Linked DNA regions of Homo sapiens: region 2 is linked to region 1. The links come from fine-mapping of genetic effects on gene expression. A gene starts in region 1. The other region holds a variant in brackets. All regions are shown on one strand. Distances are between the middles of the regions. Region 1 holds the start of MIR548A1HG (MIR548A1 host gene). Region 2 overlaps RNF144B (ring finger protein 144B).

Region 1 (11,674 bases):
TGGAGGCAGAGATTGCAGTGAGCCAAGATTGTGGCACTGCACTCCAGCCTGGTAACAGAGCGAGACTCTGTCTCAAACAACAACAACAAAAAATTAGTCAGGCATGGTGGAGTGCACCTGTGGTCCCAGCTACTCGAGAGGCTCAGGTGGGAGAATCACCTTAGTCTGGGAGGTCAAGGCTGCAGTAAGCCAAGATCACACCACTGCGCTCCATCTTGGGTGACAGAGTGAGACCCTGTCTCAAAAAAAAAGAAAGAAAGAAAGGATGCAGCAAATTAAGAGCACACTCAGAGGACATGACAGGACAGCAAAGAAACCATTGGAATAACAATGAGGGGAAACAGGAACATTTAACATATAGAAAAGAGGATTTGGGACTTAAATGACAACGGTCTTGAGTGCACTGTGCTGTACGGCAAAGAAAAATTGAATGTGTTCTCCAAAGATCTAGAATCCGGTTCCTACTCTATTCCTATTTACTGTGTGATCTCAAGCAGGTTGCTTCCCTTCTCTGGGTCTTATGTCTTCACCTTTATAAAAGGAGGTGTTGTTTTGTGAGCAATGGCAGGGGGTTTTCATCAGACTTAGGTTCAAATCCCACCTACATGGCTTACCAGTTACGTGGTTTTGATCTGAGCCTTTGTAAAATACAGATAAATAAAGATGAAAATTCCCTCAGAGCTTATTGTGAGAATTAAATAAAATAATGTAAATAAGATGCCTGGTGCAATGCTGATACATAGTTGATACTCAATAAATTATAATTTACAATTACTAATTACCAATAAATGGTAAATACAGTTATTCAGTAATACGACTCTATAAAAGATGTGAAATGCCATTACAAGAAGGCGATACAGTTTTCTGCCATGTTGCAAGACCAGCGATAAAAGTTATAGGAAAGCAGGTTTTTCACTAATTGAAGAAATAACTTTCTAATAAGTAGAACTAACAAGAAAAAAAAGCTGCCTTGCGAAGTAGCAAAGTTCCCAACACTAGGAATGTTCAACAGGGTCATGAAGAATATCTGTTGGGGACACTACAGAACAGCTTCCTATATTTTGAATGAGAAATAGATAAGATCCCTTCCTAATTCAAATGTCTATGACTTTCAGCTGAATGCAGTACCAAGTGCATTCATAGTTTATAATATTAATGTACCACTGCCCTCTAGTGTATAACCTAAGAAGATAAAATCACTGATTAAAAAAAAGGAAAAAAATGTTTGCACAAGCATCATGCAAAATTATTTTTATTGACAAAAAGTTATCTCACCAATCATTGAGTAGAACCTTCTTATTTTCAGGTGAGAAAACTAGAGGACAGAAAGTGATACAATTAGCCCAAAGTCACAGGGCTACACAGCACAGAGCTGGGATAAGAATCTCACTCTCTAACTCTCAGGTCAGGGTTCTTCCTGACATGTCACATTCCTGAGGCTGCAGCATAGATCCAGTTATCCTTGGATAGCATCACTTGTCTGAGCCAAAACTCTTTGGTTCTAACCACGTAACTGGACAAGTTTCTCTCAGCACGATGAGTCCAGCACATCCTCAATCACAAGTTCAAACCCTTACAACCATGTTGCTGAAAAAAAAACAATGGTTAATGAGGCCATGTTGACAAGCATAGTTCATTATCAGCAAGCTAATGACCACTCAGGCCGCAGCAGGGATGCCAGCCTACAATTAGGTCTGCAGTGATGTACAAACAGAAAGGGACTCTAGTTATAATTAAACCTGATCCTTTAGTCCAATTGCTCATTAGGAAAGAAAATAAAACAATCCACAGATCCCACACAAGAAGGCCTAAAACTAATGCTTTGGTCCGGGGATGAAATGTTAGGCCATTGAGCTATTAGCCCATGTCTGTCTGCTGCTGAATGAGCACTTAAGCTTATATTCTTATTCAAAATACTTTGTAATGAAGGAGGATTGGTTTTCATCTTACTGATTTTGAAAGCCGTGGCACAAAGGATGCTGGATAATTTTTCATTTTCTTCATTTTGCCTATCACGATTGTTCAATCGTTTTTCCTGTGGACCTGTATTACTTGTGCAATTAAATATATTTAAAAAGTACTAAATCTTGCCAAAATCTCTTCAAGTAATGAAAACTAGGCATTAAACATAAGAATACACATAAGCACGAGCCTTTCATAATTAGAAGAAGGAACTACCTCTATAGAAAGGCAACATGATGTTATAAAAATAAAAAAGTCAGCACAGTATATGGGTTCTGAAACCAGAGGACTGGAATTCATGCGACAGCTTTGCTAGTGAACCCTTGGACGGGTATCTAAAATTTTAAAGGAAGGTGTCTGTGATTAAATGAAAGGTCTAGGTAAAGATCCTAGGAGATGTGAAAAAAAAAAAGTGATTCATAAATTACAGGTTCCTTCCTCTTCCCCATATTCCCCTGCATTGCTTTTCTGTCCTCATAATTCCTAAAATATGTCTAAATCTAGAAAGAGATGTCTTACTAAGAAAGACCAATTGAAAGCTTTGAATTGATGAGGAAAGAAGATGTAAGTAGGCCTAAGGAGGGAAAGTAGTAAGAAGAGAGGGAGAAGAGGAGGCAGTATTAACAAGAAAGAAGAGAGAATGGGCTTCATTTGGAGACAAATTCTCTGGAGCCTTGAGAAGAGGTGGGGAGGACATTGGAAGAGTGAAGCTAATGAGATTAGAAAAGGTTTGTTTTCTCCCTTTCTTCCCATTTAGTCCCTTCCTTACCTTTTTGTCTCTTTCAGATTCTTAAATGATGAAGCCCTTTCTTATTCCTGTCCATTTATCCTTCATCTGCAACTTCTTTCTCGTTACTCAGTGCCCTAGCCGTGTGCTTTTGAATCAATCTCGCCAGCACCCTCTGGAAGTGTGTGTCATCAATTATCTTTTCATTACATAACGTTTCTCACACATACCTTCAATCTGCTCTTCTCTACTGGTCTCTTATCTGTCTATCTAAAAGCATTCTTAGGTTTTCTCTGTACTTAAGATTCAATCCCAGGAGCCCTTATATTGCCATGTGCTCCCTGGGTAACAGAAAGGGAAAGCACTGTGAAGAATACATCATTCTTTAAAAAACCAGTTCCTGCGCTCAAGGGGCTTACCAATTAGTTGTGGAGAAAAGACTATGTCATTAGAAACAATGGTGATCAATAAAAGGAGTATATAATTAAGTCCTAAATTGGCTCGTCAGACTCTGAGTCTCTACAGCTTGGGGGATGCACGCCAAGGAGTTCCCCAAGGTGCTATGGTAAGGGATGATTTGGAGGAAGCACCAGGCCAGAATATTGCACAAAGCAATTACTCAATAAATATTTGTGATTTGGTTTGAGACAAAATGTTAGCTAAGCCTTGAAAATCATTATAAGATCGCCACTTCTCCCACCTACTTGACAATTCTCCTTCTTCATTGGTTTTAAGGTGCATATTGTTTCACATCTTAACAATTCTGGAACAAGGATGTATTTTTCAATCAAGGAGACTCAGCATGTGTTACAGACTAATTGCCAGTGCTTTTTCTTTCTTAGTGGTATATAAAATAATGGTACAACTTACAACCGATGGCTTCTTAGATTCCATAAAACACAGTTTTTTTGTGTATCCAGTATATTTCAGGTTGCTATTTTAGGCCCTAGGGATATGTGAATAAGAAATGTAAAGTTTTTCTTTTGTGAAGCTTGCATTGTGATAGAGGAAGACAGATAATAAACAAATTAACAAATATATGATACACTGATGCCAGGTATGGTGACACAGACTGAATAGGAACTAGATTTAGGCCTAGATCCCAATCTACTGTGCAGGAAAATAAAAAATAATGAGAAGTGAAGTTTTTAAAAATCAGATTTCACGTACGAGAAATAGCAATTTGGAAGGAATTTACACATATTTTGGGTATTTCATCTCCTCTGCTAGACAGTGAGCTCCTTGAAAACTTTTTATAAAGGGCAATTTACTTAATTTTACTACAAAAGCTGAAAAATATAGTATGGATTGGACCCTTGATCTCAAGGGTCAGGAAACTTTTTCTGTATAGAGCCAGAGAGTCAATAATTTCAGCTTTGCACATCATATGCTCAATGACACAACTACTCACCTCTGCCATTGTAACACAAAAGCAACATGGATAAATACATAGATAAGCATGGCTGTTTTCCAACAAAATTTGGTTTATAAACACAAGTCGCAGGCTGAATTGGCTCCACATTGCAGTTTCCCAACCCCTGAACTAGGTAGCTATTCCTAAAGGCTCCTAGAACTCTGGAATTCTTTGAGATCTAAGCCTGGAGACCTATTTACCACAGCATATACAAATGATCCTCGACTACAATGGTTTGGCTTACAATTATTTTTCATTTTTAATGGTGCAAAAGCAATACACATTCAATAAATACCATACTTTGAGTACTCATACAGCCATTCTGTTTTTCACTTTCAGTATGTTATTTAATAAATTACACGAGATGTTCAACACTTTATTGTAAAATGGGCTTTGTGTTAGATGATTTGGCCCAGCTGCAGGCTAACATAAGTGTTCTGAGTATGTTGAAAGTCAGCTAGGCTAAGCTATGACATTTGATAAACCTATAGGTGTATTAAATGCATTTTTCCTTATAATAGTTTCAATTTGCAATGGGTTTATTGAGATGTAACCCCTCGAAGGCAAGGAGCATCTGTACAACATCCACAAGATTCCCCAGATTGTTAGTAAGGCCACAGAAACAAACCAAGAAAAGGGGAGCAGCAATGTTTCTGGGGTATCATATGTGGAGATGAACCCATTTACAAAGGTTTGCTCAAAAACCAAAAATTTCAACTCATCCCAACATACATGGCCTTCCAGATAGATTCAGGGAATCCTGCACTAAAAAGAACAGGTCTTTTTACAGCCACAGATAGGAGGTCAGCAGGTGATTAGTGAGGTCTGCATGCTCAGACCTGGCTTGTTGCACTGCGGTCAATTACACAGCTGGTTACAAGTGTGTGTTTGCACCTGTTCAAGCCTTCAAATGTGCTAATCCTATATTAATTAAGCAACTTCTTAGAAGCAGGTTAAAAACAAATTAGACCCTGCCATCCCATGCCTGTTCCAGCCTTCCCTTGGTAGCCCTTCATCTATAAGGGATCATCTACAGAGGGTAAGGAGCAATGTTTCTTCGTAATTCGGGAGGGGCTCATTATGCCCCATCAATTAGTGCTGCCACCACTTAGTGAAAACAGTTGTTGGTACATAGCCCATATTAGTGACTAATTAATAAGGGTTGATTAGCTAAGCCCCCTCACAAGGTATAACAGGCAACAGCCACCTTCCACAAGGACTACGGATTAAAACAGAGATATCAACAATGTAAAATGAAAGAAATTTTGCTGGTGACCCTCATCTTTTTTTTTTTTGCTTGGAGACGGAGTCTCACTCTTTTTCACCCAGGCCGGAGTGCAGTGGCGCTGTCTGCAAACTCCGCCTGCCGGTTCACGCCATTCTCCTGCCTCAGCCTCCCGAGTAGCTTGGACTATAGGCGCCCGGCTAATTTTTTGTATTTTTAGTAGAAATGGGGTTTCACCGTGTTAGCCAGGATGGTCTCGATCTCCTGACCTCGTGATCCGCCTGCCTCGGCCTCCCAAAGTGCTGGGATTACAGGCTTGAGCCACCGCGCCCGGCTACCCTCATCTTTCTGAATGGGTTAAGAGACAGCACAGTCCATAGCTAACCAGTACACCTTATGATTTCAATACATTGAAATGATTTCAGTTGCCAAGGATGTCTGGCTTGTTATTCTTTGAATCATTGATAAAGGGAGGAAAGTAGTACCATAGCAGATTAATGTGGGAGCTTATCTCAGGGAGGTAGAAAAATCGACCCTGTACATGTAGGATGCACACCATACTGCAAAACATAGGACATGAATGTGTATCTATTTAGATATCCCTGTTGATATTTTCAAATGTTATTTTTATTAGGAGCATGGAATAGTGGGTAAAAACAAGAGACTCAGATTAGTGATTTGACTAATTATGGATCAAGCAAAATGTTCATGTTTCTGTATATCAGTTATTGTGTTATATCATAATTACCTGTTGTGTATCTCCCTCATTCACACACACACACACGCACACATAGACACAAATTTTGATCACGGGTTCTTTGAAGTTAGGGGTCAAATCTCATTTATCTTCATATTCCATAGAAGAGAGCATTTTAGAAACTTCTTAGCCATTTGATGAATAGATTAAGGAATGAATGCTTTAACTTCTGATTACTGGCTAATATTTGTATCTTTAGTAGAGATGGGGTTTCATCATATTGGTCAGGCTGGTCTTGAACTCCTGAACTTGTGATCCACCCACCTCAGCCTCCCAAAGGGCTGGGATTACAGATTACAGGCGTGAGCCACCACACTCGGCAGCTGATTCCATCTTTTTTTTTTTTTTTTTTTTTTTTAGACGGAGTTTCACTCTTGTTGCTCAGGCTGGAATGCAATGGCACAATCTAGGCTCACTGCAACCTCTGCCTCCCAGGTGCAAGCAATTCTCCTGCCTCAGCCTCCTGAGTAGCTGGGATTACAGGCATCCGCCCGCACGCCCGGCTAATTTCGTATTTTTAGTAGAGACGGGCTTTCTCCATGTTGGTCAGGCTGGTCTTGAACTCCCGACCTCAGGTGATTCGCCCGCTTCGGCCTCCCAAAGTGCTGGGATTACAGGCTGAGCCACTGCGCCCCGCCTGATTCCATCTTTTACTCATGGCATCATTCCTTGCTACTCTTAACAGGTGTATTACTCCATTTTCATGCTGCTGATAAAGACATACCCAACTCTGGATAATTTATACAGGAAAAAGGTTTAATGGACTTACAGTTCGACGTGGCTGGGAGGCCTCAGAATCATGGCAGAAGGCGAAGAGGAGCAAGTCACATTCTACGTGGATGGCGGCAGGCAAAGAAACGGTTTGTGTAGGGAAACTCCCGTGTTTAAAACCGTCAGATCTCGTGAGACTTATCCACTAGCACGAGAACAGCACGGGAAAGACCCACCCCCCGTGTTTTAATTACCTCCCACCAGGTTCCTCCCACGACACGTGGGAATTGTTGGAATTAAAATTCAAAATGAGATTTGGGTGGGGACACAGCCAAACCATATCAACAGGTTTCCTTGGGATAAGTCTGATGCGTTTAGCATATCAAAGCTATCACTGTTCTCCAGTTTACCAAAATACCTCTTTCCAAACACGATGGAGAAAGAAGAAAAATGAGTGAAAAAGAGAAAAAAACCTCTAACCTACTCCCTAAGAATGTTCATCGTGGCACCATTTAAAATAGAGACTGCAAATAAACCTAAGGATGGTTAAATATAGTATGATACATTCTACATGTCATATGAAATCATTAAATTAATGTTTTAAAAGACTAAGAGTATTTAATGACATAGAAAGTGTTCCACTGAGATATCGTTAGAAATAAAAGGCACAATCCCTGCAGGATAATATAAAATAATATGTATCATGTGCATCTCTAAAAGGCCAGAGGTATAAGATTCAAAATATTTTAAAAGGCTCTCTCTGGTGACAGAATTGGGTGATGTTTATCTTCTCCTTTGTGTTTTTCTGGAAGATCCAAAGTTTTACAACATGTGCTACATTATAGTCAAAGGAAAAAAGTCCATATGAAAAAAAGAAAAGGTTTTGCTTTTATATATCTTTATACGACATCATAAAAACCATGCAATCTCATCAGTCAGGCTGAACTCCAGCAGCTACTAAAACCAGTTTAATTAATGATTCTCACATAAATTAAGTGAACTTACATTACCAGATAATAAAACATATTATGACACTACAATAACGTAGTACACACATAAAAATTGATGGTAGAAACAAATAGCCCAGAAATGGATCCTAATATATATCTACTCAAAAAGAACTTAGTATATGATAAAGGTGAGATGACTAATCATTCAAGAGGAGGAAGGATTATTTCATAAATAGTGTTAAAATAGAGAGTTAACTGTTTCAGTGAGAAGATAAATCACTGCCTTACAAGATACAATAATGTACATTTTGGATGGATTTAATTATTAAGTGTAAAAACTACACTCAGGAGACCCAGAAGAAATAATAAATATGTGAATTTATAATCTAGAATTTCAAATATCTTTCTAATCAATGATAAAGGAAAAAATAAACCAGAAAGAGAGGGAGACCAATTTTCCTACACTTTTGTATATCACTTACTCACATCAAAAACCACCATAAAAGGCCTGGCGCAGTGGCTCACGTCTGTAATCCCAGCAACTTGGGAGGCCAAGGCAGGCGAATCACCTGAGGTCAGCAGTGATTCCTGCTGAAACCCCGTCTCTACTAAAAATACAAAAATTAGCCGGATGTGGTGGCACACGCCTGAAACCCCAGCTACTCCAGAGGCTGAGGCACGAGAATCACTTGAACCCAGGCAGCAGAGGTTGCAGTGAGCCGAGATTGTGCCACTGCACTCCAGTCTGGGCAACAGACTGAGACTCTGTCCTCAAAAGAAAAAAAAAACTTTATGTTCCATTAGGGCAGGGGCTGTCTCTCTCTCATTTGCTGCTGAATGTTACACCTTCTGCAGTGCTTCACACATAGTGGGCAATCAATAAGTATTGATCAAATAAAAGAATGATCATTTACAAAAGAGTAAATAGAAATGACCATTAACACAGTTATGTTTTAAAAGTCCCACATGACTGGTAATCAAAGAAATGAAAGATGAAGCAGAGATAACACTTTATTCCCTCAACTTGGCATGTATGTCTTTTAAAATAATACTCACTGCTGTCAGGTATATGATGAAATGAGTACTCTCACTCACTGCTACTAGGAATCTGTTAGGTCAAAATTTGTCAAAATGTGCAAAAATCTCAAAAGTGTTTTGATCCTTCAGCAATATTTTCATTTCTGAGAATTTATTATGGAAAAATAATCTAAATAAACACAAAAATATCAATCTCCGCAATCCTGGTAATGCTGTAAATTGGAAACAACCTAATTGTTAAATACAGGGAATTGATTAAATAATTATATACATATGAAATAATGTTATAAAATATTAATATTTGTGATTTTGAATATTTAAGTATATGGAAAATTGTATGTTATAAAACAAGTTTAAGGATAAATCTATACGTATATATTGATTCCCATATTTTAGAAAATATATGGATATCTATACGTTAAAAAAAATAATATGTAGTCCAGGCGCAATGGCTCCTGCCTGTAATCCCAGCACTTTAGGAAGCTGAGGCAGTTGGATCACCTGAAGTCAGGAGTTCGTGACCAGCCTGGCCAACATGGTGAAACCCTGTCTCTGTTAAAACTACAAAAATTAGCCAGATGTGGTGGCACATGCCTGTAATCCCAGCTACTCCGGAGGCTGAGGCACGAGAATCGCTTAAACCCAGGAAGCAGAGTTTGCTAGTGAGCTGAGATCTCGTCACTGTACTCCAGCCTGAGCAACAGAGTGAGACTCTATCTCAAAAAAAAAATAAAAATAAAAATAAAGTGCATATTTTTATGTTTACTTGGATAGCGAAATATGCTTTTAAATTGATTTCCCAAAGAACTCATACTACTTGTATAATAAAACAAAAATAATAATTTTAAAAAACTTATCTTCACCATGCACAATGGCACAGCAGCTACACAGAGGCCACAGCAGGACGATCACTTAAGCCCAGGAATTTGAGACCAGCCTAAGCAACATGGAAAGACCCTGTGTCTTTAAAATTTTTAATAGTTTTTAAAGACTTCTCTTCTGTGAGGTTTGCAAGCTTTTTCATAGTTTGCAAGCTGTCATTTTAATATATTCTATTGATCACAAAAGGATTGGGGTGGGGAGAGATAGGTACTATAAACTGAAACCCCGCTGCTCTTAGGCAAACCCAACAATCCCAGCATATGTTGGGGTCAGTAGTGATACTCTCCTAGCCGGGACCTCCTGGGCTCACTCCATCCTACGCAACCAATACCCACCCTTGGTAACTCAATCACTGGCATCTAAAAAATGCTTTTTGCTTAGCTTAGAATATTTTGCCATTTAGATGAACATTTTTCATCAATTTTTCACTGAGTTTTTTTCTCCAGAAATGTGAACTGAAAAGTGAATTCATAGAAGAAAAATTGTTGAAAAAAAATTTCCTTTAGGATGTTTTTAGAGAATTTTTTAATCCTGAGAAATTTCACCTGCAGGAAAAGAAAAAAAATACTTAATTGCTTATTCAGTCCTATTTTCCTAAGTGTTCAGATCTTTTAATAACTTTAATGTATAGGACAGTTGCATAGGTAACATTTTAATATGACTCTGTGCATATGTGTACTACTTCTCAAAGAGGTTGAACAATTTTACATACCAGTAGTGTATGATATTTCTGGTTGCTCCACATCCTTAAAAACACTTGATGTGGTCAGTCTTTTTAATTTTAGCCATTCTAGTGGGTATGTAGTAATGTCTCATTGTGATTTTACTTTGCATTACCCTAATGTTTGGTGTGGTTGAACATTTTTTTCATGTGCTTATTTGCCATTTGTATATCTTCTTCGGTGAAGCCCCTCAAGTTATTTTTTCAGGACTGTGCTTTGTTAGAACGTTTGAAGCCTATGAACTTAAGAGAAATTCATATATCTGGTATTCCAATAAAATATTTGGAGATACCCTTCAAAAACGAGGTGTTCAGATCCTACTTCAAGCTTTATTTTTCATAGCTTTCCTGCCTATAATTATCATGTCATCATTATCCTATCTGTATATAGTCAAATAATATTGTCCTGAGAATTAATGTAAAGCAGATTCCTTCCTTCTGGCTACTGGATTTCCCTCTCAGATACTAGTTGGATGCCTGCCCAAGAGGAAAATATCAGGCATTGCAGACAGGTAATCCTGAGCACACAATCTCATTCTATAACTGAAATCTAAAATGCTATACACCAAGGAACATTTCATAAATCTTTCCTCTAGTTGAGAATTATAACCTCTCTTTATGACAGAGAACATGTGTATCCAGTGCTGGAGATTTTATTCTATGCAATAGGAAATAAATAAATAAAATTGAAAAGCATCCAGATTTGAAAAGAAGAAATAAAACTGGCTTTATTTGCAGATAACACGACTGACTCTGTAGAAAATTCTTTGGAAAAACAACTTTGAAAAAAGAGCCAGAGGGTTCGTACTGCCTAACTTCAAAGCTTTTACAAAGTTTCATTAACCAAGACAGTGTGGTATTCGCATAAAAATAGATCAATAAATGAATTAGAATAGAACATAGACCCACATATTTAGGATTGTTGACAAAGGTGCCAGGACAATTTAAAAGAGAAAGAATAATCTTTTCAATAAATGGTTCTGGAACAACTTGGTATCTATATGCACAAAAATGAACCTTGATTCTTACCGCTTAGTATATACAAAATTTAACTCAAAATAAAACATAAGCCTAAATACAAGAGTTAAAATTATAAAACTTCTAGAGCACAATAGGAAAAAAAATCATAGTGACCTTAGTTTGGCAAAGATTTGGATACAGGAATAAAAAGAAACCATAAATTAGACTTTATCCAAAGACACTATTTTAAAAAGGAAATGAGAAACCCTAGACTGGGAGAAAATCTTTACAAATAATGTATCTGTTAAAGGACTGATATCTGGAATA
Region 2 (11,674 bases), 53 kb after region 1:
TCTCTGTTTCTGCACCCCACAGGTGCTTTATTTCTGTTTCATTCAGTTATTTCTCACTCCCCATGTCACACTGTTGTCATCATGCCTCCTCTCTGTAATGCCCTTGCTGATCACAATCCTGTCTCTCAACACCCTGATCAGCATCATCTCCATGAAATGTGAATTGAAAAGTTCCAACAATCTCACTCCTTCTCCACAGGTTCATGGCACCTGTCTACACCAATCACCTGGCATGTACCAGGCATGACCCAATGCAGTCATTCCTTTTTCTGTAGACCAACGTATTCTTTCTCCTAAACCTAACTAAGCCACTTGAAACAACTAATTGAGACACATTTGTTTGTACAAAGAAGGCATTCAATATATGTTTGGTGATTAAAATAACCTAGTAGACTTGCTCATGCTTCTCAAACAGGTGTATGTAACACCCCAGGGTATTGTGGGGTACTGGAGGATACAAGACAAAGATAAAGCATCTTTAAGAAGTTAATTTTGGCCAGGGACAGTGGTTCACACCTGTAATCCCAGCACTTTGGGGGGCCGAGGCGGGTGGATTACCTAAGGTCAGGAGCTCGAGACCAGCCTGACCAATATGGTGAAATCCTATCTCCACTAAAAAATACAAAAATTAGCCAGGTGTGGTGGTGTGCGCCTGTAGTCCCAGCTACTCGGGTGGCTAAGACAGGAGAATCACTTGAACTCAGGAGGTGGAGGTTGCAGTGAGCCGAGATCGTGCCACTGCACTCCAGCCTGGGTGACAGAGCAAGACTCTGTCTTCAAAAAAAAAAAAAAAGAAAAAAGAAGAAGTTAATCTTACTTCAATAATTTAAAATGTAATCTTTAAAATGAAATCAGGCCAGGTCTGGTGGCTCACACCTGTAATTCCAGGATTTTGGGAGGCTGAGGCAGGAGGATTGCCTGAGCTCGGGAGTTTAAGACCAATCTGGGCAACATGGTGAAACTCTGTCTTTACAAAAAAATTAAAAAATTAGCGGGGTGTGGTGGCATGCACCGTAGTCCCAGCTACTCAAGAGGCTGAGGTGGGAGGATCACTTGAACCCAGGAGGTCAAGGCTGCAGTGAGCCGAGATCATCACGCCACTGCACTCCAGACTGGCCGACAGAGCAAGACCTTGTCTCAAAAATAAAAATAAATAAAATCAGGCCAGTTGTGGTGGTTCACACCTGTAATCCCAGCACTTTGGGAGGCCGAGGTGGGAAGCTGCTTGAGCCCAGGAGTTTGAGGCTACAGTGAGTCCTGATCGTGCCCCTGTACTCCAGCCTGGGCAACAAAGCAAGACCCTGTCTCTACAAACAAAATTACTTAATTAAAATCAAAATAGTATGGAGGTTATAATTTTTAATGAATGTTTAAATGAACAATAAAATTAAAAAATAAAACCAGAGACCTCAAATAAGTGTCTAGCCCTCAGCAGTTAGCTTGGGACAATGCTTCCAGGTCATCTTCTGTTCCCTCCAGTAGTAAATTAACATTCTTACACCAGTTGAGGATATTTATTGTTTGAGAAATACCCTGCAGATTATGAATGGGGAGTGGGAGAAGAATACAACCACTTATTTTTATCATTTTCATTTTAAGGTGCAATCAACACACATTTTTGTTTTCCTTAAGGTAGGTAAAAGAAATTAAACCTGAAGATTTTTTTCAAGTTTTTTTTTTTTTTTTTTTTTTTTTTTTCTGAGACGAAGTCCCGCTCTGACACCCAGGCTGGAGTGCGGTGGTGCGATCTCGGCTCACTGCAAGCTCCGCCTCCCGGGTTCATGCCATTCTCCCACCTCAGCCTCCCAGGTAGCTGGGACTACAGGCGCCCACCACCACGCTCTGCTAACTTTTTTGTATTTTTAGTAGCGATGGGGTTTCACCGTGTTAGCTAGGATGGTCTCGATCTCCTGACCTAGTGATCCGCCCACCTCGGCCTCCCAAAGTGCTGGGATTACAGGCGTGAGCCACCATGCCCCACCACAAGTTCTTATTTTACTTCCTTGGCTATGACACACTTGTGATATCAGATGTAAATATGAGGACTGAGTTTTAGTATGACCACTCTTAAAACTTTTAAAGCATTCTTTGAATATTTAATTAACTTGTTTTTTTAATTAACTTATTTCTTTATTTACCGTTTTTCAAAGTTCACAAGTAGTTTTGTGTTCTACTTTTGAAAATCGAATTCATTAAAGACTGAATAAAAATTTTGTTAACAAAGTCGATGTGCCTATTTATCTTCTCATTCACACAAACATACATGCATATATACTATCCTATATGCTATCAATATATATACCTTAAATTTAACTCAATTTGCAGAAAATACAATGTATACTGAAAAAAATTAATAACAAGCCCCTTAGACTAACACACTCATAATAATCCATGGTGTGCTTCAAATAAGGAGAGTGAGGTCCTGATATTTTTTGTATAGGTACTAGAAGAAACATGTCCCTGGAAATTCCCCAAGCAACTTTGATTATAGGTCTTTTTAGCCACCAAGAGCTGTAGATAAACCATGAGGTTCAACCACTACTCTTTGAATTTGCTCATTTTAAGTAAATTGGCAATATATTTCATATGCTTCTGGCATTATCCATAACAGCATCTGGAAGCTGCTTCTGAGGATTACTTTGTCTAAGAAGGAGAATTTCCCTTGAGCTAACTAGTTTCATGCATATAGAGCTCACAGAGGGGGCTGGAGGTTTTTTCCATCTTAGTCAAAATGTTAGGTTTGTACTGAACCTAGAAAACAGTTACTTCCTAATTTTCTAGATGAGGCAACCGAAGCCAAGAGAAATTGTAACTTGTCCACAAGAGACTAGGAGAGCTATCAAACTTCCCTCCAGTCTTTCATTTCTAGTCAAAAGCATGGCTATGCTAGTTTAAAACATCTACAGCATCTGGCCGGGTCTGTATTGCTGCACTGGGGGTGGGAGAGGGGAAGAGGCAATGACCTTGACTTTTGTTGCACGTCCCTCAACAACAGGCAGTGACTGGTTAACTCAGATCCATCTGCTTTACTGGTCTGACTTGAATGGAAACACCATCCTGTACTTTAAGCCAGCTCTTAAAAGAGTTGTCCTTCCTGAATCCAAAACAAGATTCAATCCAATCCTGAATCTTCTGAAGGTTTGTTTAGAAAGCTCAGATCAGGTTTTCTTCTGAGTCCATTTAAGAAAATCTGTCCCACATATAGACCAAATGGACCTCCCAAGGACACTAGCCAGAAGCAGAATTGCTGATCTCCTTGGCTATACTAGACCCAATTCCAACGGTAAGTCAACAGTTCCCAGGTAGAAGTTAGATTTTGCTAACTCTTCCCCAAGTTTGTGATGTCTTCAAGCAGATTCTATTACCTGTGAAAACTCTTTGCCTTCATGGGGCTGGGAAACAGAACAGATTTTAAAAAGCTAAATTTCCTTTTGAAAATGACAAATATACATACTCTCGTAGCCATTAAAATGTAAAATGGAAGCCAGAGATGTGTCAGAAGAGGAAGCCAAAGAGGTCTGAAGTATGAGAAAGACTCAATGAGCTGTTGCAAGCTTGAAGATGGAGGGGGCCACGTGGAAGGTGTGAGAAGGAACTGAATTCTGACAACACCCAGAGAGCCTGGAATAGGACTCTGAGCCTCCCTCCAGAGGAGAACACAGCCCCATCCAACACTTTGATTTTTTTTTTTTTTTTTTGAGACAGAGTCTCACTTTGTGGCCAGGCTGGAGTGCAGTGGCACAATCTCAGCTCACTGCAACCTCCACCTCCTGGGTTCAAGCGATTCTCCTGCCTCAGCCTCTTGAGTAGTTGGACTGCAGGTGCCCACCACCACGCCCGGCTAATTTTTGTATTTTTAGTAGAGACAGGGTTTCACCATGTTGGCCAGTATGGTCTCAATCTCTTGACCTCGTGATCCGCTAACCTCGGCCTCCCAAAGTGCTGGGATTACAGGCATGAGCCCCCACACCTGGCCAACACCTTGATTTTTAGCCCAGTGAAACTTCGAGCAGAGAACCCAGCAACATCACGTCAGACCTCTGATCTACAGAAACTGAAGTAATAAATGTGTTGTTTTTAGATGCTTTTAAAAATTAAAATAATGCAAACAGGTCCCGAGTTAGTTCATGCAAGATGTGGGTTCAAGTTCTAGCTTTGCCACTCACCTGCTGTACGACCTGCACCATGTCTTCTAACCCCTGAGTCTCATCTCCCATCTGTACATTGGGGGTGGGGGGGTGTGAAGAGTAATATCTACTTTCTAGAGTAGTATGAAGAGCAAAAGGAAACTGCATACTATAAGGCATTATTTAAACACTAAGTTCTTACCATAAACCTTCCCCCCAAAATCAATGTGTTGATATAAATTCTGCATTTCTTTCCACATATTCCCCTCATTTTAATGAAGCATATACTTAGATTTAACTATTTTGTGAAATATTTGTTAAACAATGACATAGGATTTTTTTTTTAAACCTAAAAAGAAAATACATTTACGGAGGGGGTCATACTTCTCTCAACACAGACAAGCTTGAAATGTATTTCAGGACTACCCTCCTCCTGCCCCAAGTTTGCCCCCTCTTCTCCTCTCAGAACAATGCCTGGCTAAAAACTGATTGACTCGGCCAGGCGCAGTGGCTCATGCCTGTAATATTTCAGCATTTTGGGAGGCCGAGGCAGATGAATCACTTGGGGCCAGCAGTTCAAGACCAGCCTGGCCAACATGGTGAAACTCTGTCTCTACTAAAAATACAAAAATTAGCTGGGCGTGGTGGCACACGCCTGTAGTCCCAGCTACTCAGGATGACGATGCAGGAGAATTGCTTGAACCCAGGAGGCGGAGTTTGCAGTGAGCAGAGATAGCACCACTGCACTCCCGCCTGGGCAACAGAGCGAGACTGTCTCAAAACAAACAAACAAAAAACTGATCAACTACACTTAACAGCTGCAAGCACACCTAACTCAGTGGCTCGCTCTCCTCACACCTCCCTAACAACCAACACTTAGAAGCACTTTGACATTCGGGATTTTACTCGATCCACCTAAGCCTGACCTGAGAT[A/C]GGGATGAAATGACGCTATACAATAAAGGGCTGGCCCCAGACCATACCACCAGTCAAGAGCACAGCCAGGCCTAGAACTGAAGCCATCTTATTGCCAGCTGGGCGTCTGCCTCCAACCCCACACCACCTGGATTGGCAGAGGGCCGGGAGGACAGAGGACGCTGCACACTTGTTCTGTGGCCAGGGTGGCACCACGTTTGCCAGCCCTCTCCCAGCACCCTGTTCACATGCCCTTGTGGTGCCAAAGTCCCAGGGCCAGGCTGGAATTCAGGACACACCACACAGGGTGGTATGTGGATTTCTGAACTTGTTTTAAAATGAATTGGCTTGTCTTCAAAACATAAGTCGAGGCTGATCAATAATCAGAAGTCCCATAACTTACCTCAAAAATACCTTCATGTTCATTTTATCTGAATGTGTTCAGTACTATTGATGTTAACCACCCCTCCACTCCCCACAAAAGGAAATATATCTTCTTGAATCATGTCAGGTCCTTAAGGAACTACAAGATAAAACGACCAACACTCAACTTAATTTCCTTCTCATCGAAAGCCCGAATTCCTGATTTAACAGCTAAAAAAAAGCAAAACTGAGGGCAAATATAGCACTGATAAAAATCGAAAATCATAAAGGCAGAAAATGGAATTGAAAGGACTTCTTTATGTATGAGAAATTAAGTTCATTACTTGGAGTCCCCTTTCTAGCTTTGGAAACTGCCAATTGATTTAATGGTAGGCTACAAATACACATTTGAGTACAAGTTGGCAGTGTTAATAAGAAAGGAGTTAGATCTGAGTCAACAGTCCCTTTGAATCTTGATTGTAAATATCAAAAGGAACTTGTGAGAATGTACTTTGTAGGGGAGAGGCAAGCACTTGGGCATTTGGGGTAAGTATATAGATTCAGCTATAATTCTGCTTCCAATACTAGCAAGTCAGATGCAGACCGCCTTGTTATTTTTCTAGTTACCTTCCATCAACTGTCCTTCTCTAGCCAAACTTCAAGGAGTGAGGTGAGGGGATCTCAGGGGTACCCACCAAAACACAGCCTCTAAGTGATGATTTGAAATATGTTCTTACATACATCTCCACTGATGCAGATAAATGAGAGGGTACTATGTTCTCTTAGGACTCACAGATTTGGGAGTGAAAGACTCGAAATTACTAATGAAAGAGCATTATAGAACTTTCAAGTCGTAGTGCATTCTTTTCCTGGCTGTCACTCATCAGTATGAACCTAAGCAAGACATGAATACAAAACATTGCTTTCTTCATAAAATGGATCTAATCTGCTCCATTTATCTCAAAGGATTGTTCTCAAAAGTTCTTTAGTTTACGTAAAAATATACAAATAAAACATTATAATTGCTATTAACGCATTTAAGCAGATTCGTTTCCTTTTTCTCATAGTGTTGGGCATTATCTTTAGGGTCTAAAGAAAACTAGATTTATTATCTAACAAATGAAAATAATTGAATTACAGAAAAACCTAATTATTATTCTCCTCCAAATCATCAGATTCATAACTTAAATTGCAATGAGTTTGCTGGTTAGGGCACTGATTAAAATCACTGCTATATAAAATGGTTCATTCAATATTTCTTTGGGAATGCAAATTCAAGGTTAGCAAACAATAAGCACACTTTCAAAATGAAATAATGTTGACATTCTAGGAGATGATTAAGAAAATTAAGAAACCATAACCCAAAAGTATTTTTAAATGATCTTATTGATTTCCTCAAAACTGAATGATTAGAAAATGAAATTTGAATTGTACATCAGTTGTAAACCTTTGTATGCAGGTACCATTTTAGAAGCATCCAGCCTTCAATAAAAAGGTTTCAACACCAGTACAGGAGAGTGAGCTTTCGGTTTTATGGAAACACAAGCTCTAGTTGTTAAGTAATCTTTGGCACCCAACTTAAGACCTGCCTCGAATACTAATTCAAATGGAAATGACCTTAACACTCTTAAATCCTTTCTTAAAAAATCATAACAAGGAAACACATGCCTCTAGCAGACTTTTGGAAGGTTAGAACTGACCTTAGCGTTTAGTCCAACCTTTATTGTACAGAACAAATGGCTTTGACACTTGGCAGCATTTTTTATTAGAATGATCAAAGATCTGTATTATTGGTTATTGCTCTGGATAATGATGAGTTCCTATGCACTGGCAGTGTGGACTATCACACCTACAAAGAAGAAAGTGTGTAACAAAGGCATTACACTTGCCACCCCCCCACCCCCTTTTTTTTTTTTTTGAGACCGAGTTTCGCTCTTGCTGCCCAGGCTGGAGTGCAATGGCACAATCTTGGCTCACCGCAACCTCCACCTCCAGGTTCAAGCAATTCTCCTGCCTCAGCGTCCCAAGTAGCTGGGACTACAGGCATGTGCCATCATGTCCAGCTAATTTTTTTTTTTTGTATTTTTAGTAGAGACAGGGTTCTAATTTTTTGTGTTTTTAGTAGAGACGGGGTTTCACCATGTTGGCCAGGCTGGTCTCGAACTCCCGACTTCAGGTGATCCGCCCACCTTGGCCTCCCAAAGTGCTGGGATTATAGGCGTGAGCTACCACACCTGACCCCCTGACCCTATTTCTTTTAAGAAGTAAAGTAGCCAAGAGTTATTTCCATAGATGGTATTGCAAATTCTGGTACATTTTGTAAATTCAGAACCTAGGATTTAACAGTAACTTGGTTGGTTCTCAAAGGATAAAACTGAACATGCCTAGAATTGTGCAGCGCAACAAAGGTTAACACACTTGATTTCCTGCTTACATTTATTGTGGCTAGAGAGCCTAAACAGCTATTTTCTTCTCCAAAAATTGGAAAAATATAACACGATAGCAATTTTTTAAATACATAAAACTTCCTGGATCATGAATCAACATGAGACATAATAGCCTGTAGATATCAATTGTGATCGCTTTATAAAATGTCATTCATCTAATGCATTTCTGAAATTGCCCTTAAAGCTACACATACACACATGACTCTATATCACATAAAGGCATCCATTCATGAACAGAAAGAAAAGTCTTTTATTAGTACTGTGTAGGGAAGGCTAAAGAAATATACATTTAATTCAGAATAATTTTTAAGAAAAAACGTGGGGTTCCAAGAAATGGTGATTTACATTCAAATGAACATGTACATTTGCAAACCTGGATAAGTAGATATTTTCATGAAGCACGCTACAAGAAAATTCACACAGAATTATTTGTTTTTCAAAGGCCTCTTTCAAAGTACAGACTCCAAGTCCAAAGCAAATACCCATGGCATGAACAAATAGGATGCCTAAGATTCTAACATTTGCTTCGGCATGGCTTTCCTCCTCACTTCCCTACCTCACAACAAGAAAAAATTTCCTAGATGGGACAATGGCAAGATATTGTGCTAATACGTTTCATAGGATTTCTAGATGCTGGGCTATAACATCCAGGTTACAATTTGGTGACGGATTTTTTTATTTCTATTGCAAATGGACTACACTCCAAACACAAAAAGATTCTTGCCATAGCATCCAAACATCCCTATGTAGACCCACACTTCCTCTCAATACAGAAAGAGAATCACTCAGAAAGGACAAAGCTGGCAGACCAAGAAAGGAGGCAAGGGTAAACTCTGTCACTGGCCAATTATCTAAAACAAAAATAGCAGCCTCTGTTATCAAAGTTGTCAGTTAAAACTGTCAGCTGTCAGGCACAGTGACACACACCTGTAATCCCAACACTTTGGGAGCCCAAGGTGGGTGGATCGCTTGAGCCCAGGAGTTTGAGACAAGACTGGGCAACACAGAGAAACCCCATCTCTACAAAAAATACAAAACTTAGCCAGGTGTGGTGGTGTGTGCCTGTAGTCCCAGCTGCTCAGGAGGATAAGGTGAGAGGAACACTTGAGCCCAGGAGGTAGGGGTTGAAGTGAACCATGATCATGCCACTGCACTCCGGCCTGGGTGACAAAGGGAGACTCTGTCCAAAAAATAAAAATAAAAATAAGTCGCCAGCTCTCTCCTTTATAAACAGTCTTTAGACTGGTTTGTATCATGCCCCTTGATGTACCAGAGATATGTTTAACCAACCTAGTTTTGTTGATTCTGACAATCTCACACACATTTAAGAATTTACCATTTTTCAGGCACTTTTCAATGTTAAAAAAAATTAAATCCAATTATTGAAAATCAGTTTGACAAACAACCCCCACTCCATAGCCCTGGCAAAAAAAAAAAAAAAAAAACAAAAGCAGCTAATTCAGTGATACAAACTCTGTAAGGTGGCAAATTCCCTCAACTCGCCAAGGAAATAGCACATATTTATTTTCTCCCATCTTTACTCCAAATTTGGGACCTCTTCCTCTGATAACACAGTCTTTTAGGTTACTTGAAATCAGCCCCCATTTAAAGACTCTTTGCAGCACCAAGCTTAAAGAGTTTACTGACAGAGGACTTTGCCACTATTAACATTCTTGTTACAAAAATTCAGTTTCAGTTGAGTTCTCGTAATCCCCTGAGCAGTTATAAATGCCTTTTACCTATAATGAGGCAGTGGGCTACGTGTAAAACAAAGCAAATTAACTATTCAAATATATGTAAATCTATAATTATACTAACATGAACTACACTGATAGTGTTTTTTTCTGAAGTGTTTAGAGTTTCAAAAGAAAAAGACACAATATTGAGAAATTTCTAATAAATGATTAAAAATGATTTTGGTTGGTTGCCATTCCCAAGTTTTCCCAGAGTTCTCATCTATGTTCTACACAACATGTAAATTAAAATGTACATAACCAACAGATGTACTATACACACATCAGATATCAATATATACTTGTGAATTAAAGTTCCTGAAATATACACATCCCCACTTAGGATATATCCTATTACATAGGCAAAGCATCATCCTTTAACAATAGGTCCGAGATAGCAGCAATTTGATATTCTATTACCCAGTTACCTCAGAAAATATCATAGATCCTGAATAGTTCCTGATATGGTATCCCTGGCTTCAAGAACTCTCCAGTAACATTTAGCATAGGTCTCATGAAGCACCAGGCTACATTGCCAATAGCAATTATATAATCCTGTCATTGGAGAAAAGGTTTTATCCTTTCAAAACCTCGTTATTCAAATCTGACTAATGGTATAATGGAAAAAATAAGTCACAATGAGGTGATACATAAATTTAAACTAAATTATATAAAGCATTTCTATTTTATTTCTTACATGTTTTTGTTGCGGTTTTATCAGTGCCTTGAAACAGAAAGTATTCAGACTGTCCTAACAGATGCTGAAAGAGCAATAATGATGCTGAGAAAAGAGCTATTCTGTGTTCGAAAACATGTAAATGACTCGGTTATCAATTAGCGTTTTTACAGAGATGGCAGGATATTGTACTAAGCACTGTTTTAAAAGAGTTATGAGTCTATACCCTTGGGTAAGTTATGAACTTACAACCAAAATTCACATATATAATATGCAAAAAATCTTTAGGCAGATTTACAATAAACCATTTCAGTCACAAAAGGATAGAATGGCTCTTAAGTAAACATTTATTTTGTGTGTACTATTGGGTATATCCATGCATGCTCAATGGATAGAAATTACAGGTAGGCTGCAAGTCACATGGATTCTAGATGTACATAATACGCACTTTAATATTTACCCTCCATGTGTACTCTTAGGCCTGATTCCAAATCTATTGGCTGTGTGAACACAGATCCTGAGAAAGGTCCCAGATATCTATGACGAAAGTTTTGAAACTCTACCACTCTACCCGTATTTTATATGAAACAATTCTGTAGACCACAGCCACTGGCTGTAAGAGACAAGTTGGCCAACTTAGAAAACTTACATTTGCCAAGGGAGAGACACTAAATTAGACCACATTGTTTAACAGGCTGCAACTCTTTTACTGGGAAGGGGCAACTCCCTCTGCACAGCAGTTTCACCTGCTTGAAGCTGAGATCACACAAGGAGAAGCCTATTGTGTTTCTGCCAAATCACAGCGGGAACATGGGGACAGCACACCCAGTAGCCAGCAGAGGCACAACCACCATATCAACTGCTGAGATCAGCAGCCTGCTTTATAGCTCCTATGAGGATTTCTCCTTACGCAGTCTTATCCTTCTCCTCATCAGGTTTCCCCTGTGTTTCTCATGGCAGTCAAATCAACACAGAACAGACTCCAGCTTCTTGGTTATCTTGTATGTTGCCAACAATGACAACACATTTGTTATATCAAATGTTCCCGCAAGCTCCTTGAATTTGGCTGGAAGTTGAACAGTCCAGTGAGATCCTTTGGATGATAAAATGATATGTTCATTCATCTCAAGGAACCCCAAAGCTCCATAGAAACAGCTGGACCGTTGAGCCCAGTTCTTGTTACACAGGAACACTCACACCCAGGACTTGGCCTTTCCTGATGCTGAAGGCTGGCAGGCAAGTTCAAAGTCTGGACACGGAGGCACTTTCAAAGTTGGCAAGGAGAAGGAGGCAAGGTCACTAAATGGGGCTTTATCACTGTGCCATCTCATGTAACTCACATATCTGGGGCGTATGAACACAGAGATCTTTAGGTTGTGGATGGGTCGTGCTTTTTCTTCTTGCCCCGACAGGACT

What was found. PIP is the estimated chance that this variant, and not a neighbour inherited with it, causes the effect.
Region 2: its variant is fine-mapped to the expression of MIR548A1HG in thyroid (GTEx, PIP above 0.99).

What each region holds. Positions count from the first base shown.
Region 1 is chr6:18,518,016-18,529,689 of GRCh38, reverse strand. MIR548A1HG (MIR548A1 host gene) reads right to left here and starts at 6,943. Exons shown (of 8, transcript NR_149116.1): 1 at 6,855-6,943. RefSeq lists an enhancer at 1,463-2,098.
Region 2 is chr6:18,465,021-18,476,694 of GRCh38, reverse strand. RNF144B (ring finger protein 144B) reads right to left here. Exons shown (of 8, transcript NM_182757.4): 8 at 7,825-11,674. The coding sequence ends at 11,628. Among named protein-coding and RNA genes, the nearest start is that of MIR548A1HG, 52 kb to the left of the region's middle. The variant A/C (reference allele first, on the strand shown) is at 5,061.